2 linked regions of the Homo sapiens genome follow. The protein of the gene in region 1 purifies or fractionates together with the protein of each later gene. This does not show direct contact. Each region holds a gene or a part of one and is shown in the gene's direction. Other genes may lie near its edges.

Region 1 (3,658 bases):
CAGGAGCTTGATGTTTTCATTAGCAAGTGCAGGGAGGAATGTTTTATGGAGTGAAAGAGTCACATATCTAAGTGAACTGAGACACAAATAAACCTATAGATGGAAGGAGGAGAAAAAATTAGCTTCAAAATATTGTATAAATTAGAATATTGGTCATAAGTAGTATGTCTATATTACATATATTAGATATGAAAATATAAATAATTATAATTATAGGTGATTAATAAGAACCTATTCAAATACTCAGTTCTCTACCTAAAGGATTCCACATTCTTCAAGTCTATTTCTGCATCTGAAATAGTTCATATTTGAACATAAATTGAGAAAAAGGGATATTTACTGTAGTACAGACTCACATGCATCTGTATCATGGTTGATGGCCTCATGTAGACAGATTAGATGATATGGTGACCCATAACTCAAGATTATTTGAAATTATACTATGAAGGACTTTTTTCTCATTGAAAACAGTTGGTGATTCTACCATAATTTGTTTGATTTTTAATGCATTTTAACTAGTGATGCTGCTACATTGTCACCTACTGCATCCCAGTCCTCTCAAATAGCTAATTTACAATTGTTGTGACAAAACTATTGTAGGATCAAGCAATGGAAGACTTAAAAACCCTTGCAAGGACTCAATGATTTAACGTTGAGCATTAAACCTTTTATTCCATCTGTGAAATAGATTTTAGACACAGAAGTTCAGCAAACATGGGTGTAGTATACTGTTTTCTTTGTGGCAGGAAAACAAATGTAAGCATTTTAAATTATGTGGAAAAACTATAGTTTCTTAAATGAAAGCATTCTTTAGTTTGTTTCCTTGTTTAGTGGTTAAAGAATTTTGTTCATGGCTGCTCTATTGGAATCTATCACAGGATTGAAGGAAAGGGTGCAAAAACTGGAAAATGACAACATTCTAAAGGTCTAAGTCTTGTGCTCTCCAGTAGACACTAGCCACATGTGGCTATTTAAACTTTAATTAATTAAAAATAAAATTTAAAATCCATTTTCCTCACTTGCACTAGTCACATTTTAGTGTTCAAGAGCAACAGTTAATAGCCACCTTTTTGGGCAGCCCAGAATGACAACAATTCCATTATTACCAAAAAGTTCTAGAACAATACTGTTATAGACCAGAAGTTAGCGAACTTTTTCTTAAAAGGCCAAATAGTAAATACGTTAGGCTTTGCTGCCAGTATAGACTCTGTAAAAACAACTCCACTCTGTCACTGAGGTGTGAAGAAAGCCATAGACAATTCATAAAAGAATGGGAATGGCTGTATCCGAATCAAATTTTATTAAAAAGAAACAGGCAACCAGCCCCTGGAAAATAGTATAACCAGCCCTGGTATTAATTCTTCAAGAGAATAACTAAACTTTGGGTTAAAAATCTGGGGTAATAAAATAGTGTCTTTCTGGTCTCTGCCTTTAAATCACCAAAAGTGTTAATGTCACAGTGATTCTATTACAGCCCATAAAATCCTATTTCTACTTCGGCATCTGACCAGGGTAATAGTGAGCCTGCTGAGCAGTCTGTCCATGAAAGCCTGAAGCCAGTAACAAGAATAGTTCAGTTTCACATGTCCCTTAGAAAGATGAAAAATAATATTTGACTAATGACTTCTCAGTGCCTGCAGCAAGTTTTTTAGCTTAGGGAATTGATCTGTAGTCAAATTGCATAGAATTCGAGGGGGAAGTTTTAACAAATAATGGTAACATGATCTGTAGTGAATTGTGAATATAATGTCAGTGCGATGTTAGATTAGGGGAGGGAGGAATAGCAAGATGGAATACTTTGCTGAGTAATCTATCTAGACAGCACCTTTTGATCTGAAACCACTGATAGCCTAAAAAAATGCTTTCACTTCTACCAATTTATTCACAAATGATTTTTTGAGTATTGTTGATATTAACTGGAAGTCATCAGCAGTACTTTTGGGTTTCCCAGAAAATGTAATCTAGTTTATAAGTTCTAATTAAAATGGTTGTACTGGCCCCCAGATCCACCAAAGACACCCTTTCTGTCTTTGATATACATTTCTAAATTTTTTGTCACTATAATTTTGAAAGTCAAACCAGTTCTATCAAAAGAGAATGATTAAATTTAGAGAAAGTCATCAATACAATGATTATAATTAGAATAGAGAACACTTTAAAATATGTATTCATAAAAGAATGGGAATGGCTGTGTATACTTAATACATACACGTACACACAATGAATCGAGCAAACTGGGAAAATGTGACTAAAATTGATGGCGTCTACCAATGTGAATATCTTGGTTATGATAATATAATTTTGCAAAATGTTACTACTGGAAGATACCGGGCAGAGCATACAAGAGATCTTTCTGTATCATTTCTTAGAACTGCATGTGAATCTACAATTTTCTCCATAAAATTGTAATTACAAGGCATAGCGAAATTCTAAAGCTGATATAGCAACATATGTCATATGTATTATTTGATAAAAGGGTAAAGTATAAAGAGATTATCACAGCAACATACCAAAACAAATATTTCTCCTTCTGAACTGATTATACGAGGAGCCTAATAGAGTCACACATTAGTTAATAAACTATAGAATGTATAGATTTGTCTCACCTTTCTAAATTTTTCCTGAAAAATAAAGTTATTCCTGGAGAAAGCTGGTTAAAGGGATAACCTAGGAAATTTGTACCCAAGAGGAGGTTTTTCTACATAATTTGAAAAGTTTGAGTTAACCTCACATACCATGAGCCTGATTGAAAATTTGTTCTTTCTGAAATTTTGTTAATCTTGTTAATTATATGAGAGATTATTAAAGTTTCTCAAGGCCTTAGAATTTTTTAACCCAATCCAGGTTTCCAGGCAGGTAAAGGAAATATGAATATGACTAGGAGCTCCAATTTCCATATCTGATTAACAATAACAGGCAACTTAAAGTTGGAAATGCTGTTTTAAAATAACCCTGAAAAGAAATGCTAAGTTTTTGCCAATGATATTTGGAGATACAAAAAGAGAATCCAGGATAACAACTTGCATAGTTGGCAGAAGTTGTAAAACTGAAGAGTTTGAACTGAATTTTTGATAAGGTTAGGTTTAATTAATAGGTTAGAGGAAGAAAAGAGCACTCTAATGCTTCTTGCTTTTTGCAGAATTCAAGGAGGCATTTCTCCTGTTTGACAGAACAGGTGATTCCAAGATCACCTTAAGCCAGGTCGGTGATGTCCTTCGAGCTCTGGGCACAAATCCCACCAATGCAGAGGTCAGGAAAGTTCTGGGAAACCCCAGCAATGAAGGTAACCCATCAATTTTTCCAAGAAGTGTGGAAGTATAGGGAAGTGTGTAGCAGTGTGTGTGTGTGTGTGTGTGTGTGTGTAGTATGTGTGTGTGTGTAGTATGTGTGTGTGTGAGAGAGAGAAAGATTGATTTAAAAATGTTTCACATAATAGGGCTCAGTTTATTCTTGATTGTGGTAAGTGTGCCTCTTGGCCATAGAAAGTCTCAGCTTTTTGCTTTATAAAATAAGTTAAACTTCCTTTGAGAATTTGCAAGCGTGGTAAAATGTCATGCTAATATCTAATGTTAAGCATTAGATATTAGAAATAATACCTAATGCTAATATCATTTCGAATGTTCATAATTAAAGGCTAATGTAATGAAATAATATCCAA
Region 2 (3,658 bases), on another chromosome or scaffold:
CAAAAACCAAAACACTCACCATGTTCTTTTTTAAAAATATTCTGTCTCTAAATGGGAGCATCTACAGATTTTACATAATTGTAGATATAGCTAAATCCCATGTTTTAAGCTAAACTGAAAATACTACCTAGGGAATGGGAATATTTGATTCTTGGATAAACTATTAGTTCACATTTACTATGTTCACAGAGGATACAAAAATCTAATTTTTAAAAAATTCTGGACCTAAAAATTTAATTATACATGTATGTCACTCCATTTACAGATATAAAGATAACTCGAGTAGTATCAGTAAGGCATAGCTAAGGTAGGGGCTCTCACCTCTGGGCTGTCCATTTTAATGACCTGGCAGACTTTTTAAAAACACTACAGGGTTCCACTCCCAGAGATTATGGTGTAATTGGTCTGAGGTAGGGCTGGGGTTTATTTTTGTTTTTTTAATCACTTGCAGTGCTTTAATATAATATATAGCCTGTGTTGAGAACCAGCTACAGAAGTATCAAGTGCCATAAGAAAGGCACAGGTTAAGTATTTTCTGAGTCCAGGAAAAGAAAAGATTGTTTTCACCTGAAAGGGAACTGGAACGTATGCTTGAAATGTATAGCATTTGACTGAATCTTGAACATACTGGTAGAATTTGGATGAGCTGAGATGGGAGAAAGGAAGGATACTGAGATAATAGTCATATAAGGGAAAGACATTGCAGCCTGACCCTGGTGCATGACAGAAACAGTGAGTAGCTTAGTTTATCCTCTGTAGACCTGAGGAGCTGTCTGAGAGCTGGAAATACTGGCTTCTTGGATATTTGATGTGTTATTTTGAACAAAGAAAACAGTAAGTGTTCTTGGTATCTTTCCTTTTGCCATTCTTCATACCCTCATCTATTTAGTACTTTTTCTTTAATTTTAGCTATTGCATTTTTTTTTTAGCCTGTCTTCTCTGACCAGAAGGAGGAAAAAGAATACAGGCAGGACAGCGAACTAAATTTGAGCCCCTATTTGCCACTATTACTGATGGAGTAATTATCTTAAATGTCTCCACTTTATTTTTTCTTTTTTTGTTTTAGAGACAAGGTCTTGCTCTATCACCCAGGCTGGAGGACAGTGGCTTCATCATAGCTCACTGCAGCCTCAAACTTCTGGGCTCAAGCAGTCCTTCTGCCTCAGCCTCCCCAGTAGCTAGGACAACAAGCACACACCACCATGCCTGGCTTTTTTGTTTGTTTGTTTTTGACACAGGATCTTGCTGTGTTGCCCAAGCTGGTCTTGAACTTCTAGCCTCAAGCTGTCCTCCCACCTTGGCCTCCTGAAGTGCTGCGATTACAGGCATGAGTCAATGTGTCGCCACCTTTTTTTTTTTTTTTTTTTTTTGAGAAAGAGTTTTGCTCTTGTCGCCCAGGCTGGAGTGCAATGGCACAATCTTGGCTCGCCTCCCAGATCCTCTTGCCTCAGCCTCCCAAGTAGCTGGGATTACAGGCATCCACCACCACACCCAGCTAATTTTTGTATTTTTAGTAGAGATGGGATCTCACCATGTTGGCCAGGCTGGTCTCGAACTCCTGACCTCAGGTGACCCACCTGCCTTGGCCTCCCAAAGTGCCTGAGATTACAGGCGTGAGCCACTGCGCCCAGCCAAGTCTCCACTTTTTATCCTAACGTTCGTAATAGAACTCCTTTGACTCGTTTTAAACCTTCCACAGGTTCCTCTGGCAAAACCTTTCTCATCTGATTCATGCTGATTCTCTTGAAGATAAAATTTTAATGTTGTAAAATGCTAATTAAGTGTCACTTAAATTTTGAAAAGACTTCAATGCTTTATTTATACATACATCTTTGCTATTCTAATTATTAATTAAGTAGATTAGGTAGTGAAAGCCACAAAATAGTCTTGGGATCTCATAAAATTAGAGTTGAGGCCAAGCGTGGTGGCTCACGCCTGTACTCCTAGCACTTTGAGAGGCTGAGGTGGGTGGATCACCTGAGGTCAGGAGCTTGAGACCAGCCTGGACAACATGGGGAAACCCCGTTTCTACTAAAAATACAAAAAAATTAGCCTGGTGTGGTGGTGCATGCCTGTAGTCCCAGCTACTAGTGAGGCAGGAGAATGGCCTGAACCCAGGAGGCAGAGGTTGCAGTGAGCCGAGATCGTGCCACTGCACTTCAGCCTAGGTGACAGAGTGAGACCCTGTCTCAAAAAAAAAAAAAAAAAAAAAATGGAGTTGAGATGGAAGGCAATGAATGATACACCATTTTGTTTCATCAGGGATTTTAAAATCAATATTCAGTCTCAATTATTTCTTTAAAACTTCAGTCTCAATTATTTCTTTAAAACTAATCCAGAAAAGAGATTTCTTGAACAGTTAAATGATTAATAACATTTTAATCACCTTTGTTGAGCCTAATACTCTTACATAGTCAATGACGTAGGGCATTGTTCAAGGCCCCTGCTAACACGTGTCACTTGTATGTGAATTAGAAAATTGTAATTCTATCTGGGAACGGTGGCTCATCCCTATAATCCCAGCACTTTTGGGAGGCCGAGGAGGGCAGATCACGTGAGGCCAGGAATTCGAGACCAGCCTGGCCAATATGGTGAAACTCCGTCTCTACTAAAAATACAAAAAATTGGCCGGGCACGGTGGCTCACGCCTGAATCCCAGCACTTTGGGAGGCCAAGGCTGGTGGATCAGAAGATCAGGAGATCAAGATCATCCTGGCCAATATGGTGAAACCCTGTCTCTACTAAAAATACAGAAAACTAGCCAGGCATGGTGGCACGTGCCTGTAGTCCCAGCTACTTGGGAGGCTGAGGCAGAAGAATCACTTGAACCTGGGAGGCGGAGGTTGCAGTGAGCCGAGATTGCGCCACTGCACTCCAGCCTGGCAACAGAGCGAGACTCTGTCTCAAAAATAAAAATAAAAATACAAAAAATTAGCCGGGTGTGGTGGCTCGCGCCTGTAATCCCAGCTACTAGGGAGGTGGAGGCAGGAGAATCGATTGAACCCAGGGAGGCGGAGGTTTCAGTGAGCCAAGATTGCGCCACTGCACTCCAGCCTGGGCAACAAAGGGAGACTCCGTCTCAAAAAAAAAAAAAAAAAATTGGAATTCCCTTCCCTTACATAGATAGGTTCCATGGCAAGTGCACACAATATGTAAGACAGAACACAGGCTAGATTTCAGCCCCACTTACTTGCTTGGCCAGCCACCCTTGTACAAGGCACGGCTGTACACAATAGCCCTAGCATTATGTGCTGTTTTCGTATAGCTACCCCTCAAGTTTTTAAATAACTGGAATAGTCCCCTTAGTGTTGGGGCTGGTGGCACAGAGGAATGGCAGAGAGAATGGAGCAGGCAGGTCATCTTTACCTACCTTTCACTACCTCTACCTCTAGCACATTCTAGTCCAAGCCTCTACTGTCTTCCGTGGCTTCTCACTGTTCTTTATACAATCGTTCCTTATACAGATGGACTAGTGACCCTTTCAGAATAAAATACATGCGACTGTCTTACCCAGAACTTTCTGATGCCTTCTTATTGCACTTGGAATAAAATCTTTCTTTTCTTGATGTACAAGAGTATACATACTTTTGTTTTGTTCTTTTTTTTTTAAACTAACCCCCTAATCTTGTGTCCTACTGCTCTCCCATCACTATATCCT

Evidence for each region.
Region 2: the proteins of MYL1 (region 1) and NUP107 fractionate together in Homo sapiens (co-fractionation; one large-scale study listed by BioGRID). This does not show direct contact.

What each region holds. Positions count from the first base shown.
Region 1 is NC_000002.12:210,298,045-210,301,702, reverse strand, and holds part of MYL1 (myosin light chain 1/3, skeletal muscle isoform), read left to right. Parts: intron 1-3,139; coding exon 3,140-3,283; intron 3,284-3,658. UniProt on the Homo sapiens protein: Non-regulatory myosin light chain required for proper formation and/or maintenance of myofibers, and thus appropriate muscle function.
Region 2 is NC_000012.12:68,735,370-68,739,027, forward strand, and holds part of NUP107 (nuclear pore complex protein Nup107), read left to right. Parts: intron 1-3,658. UniProt on the Homo sapiens protein: Plays a role in the nuclear pore complex (NPC) assembly and/or maintenance. Required for the assembly of peripheral proteins into the NPC. May anchor NUP62 to the NPC. Involved in nephrogenesis.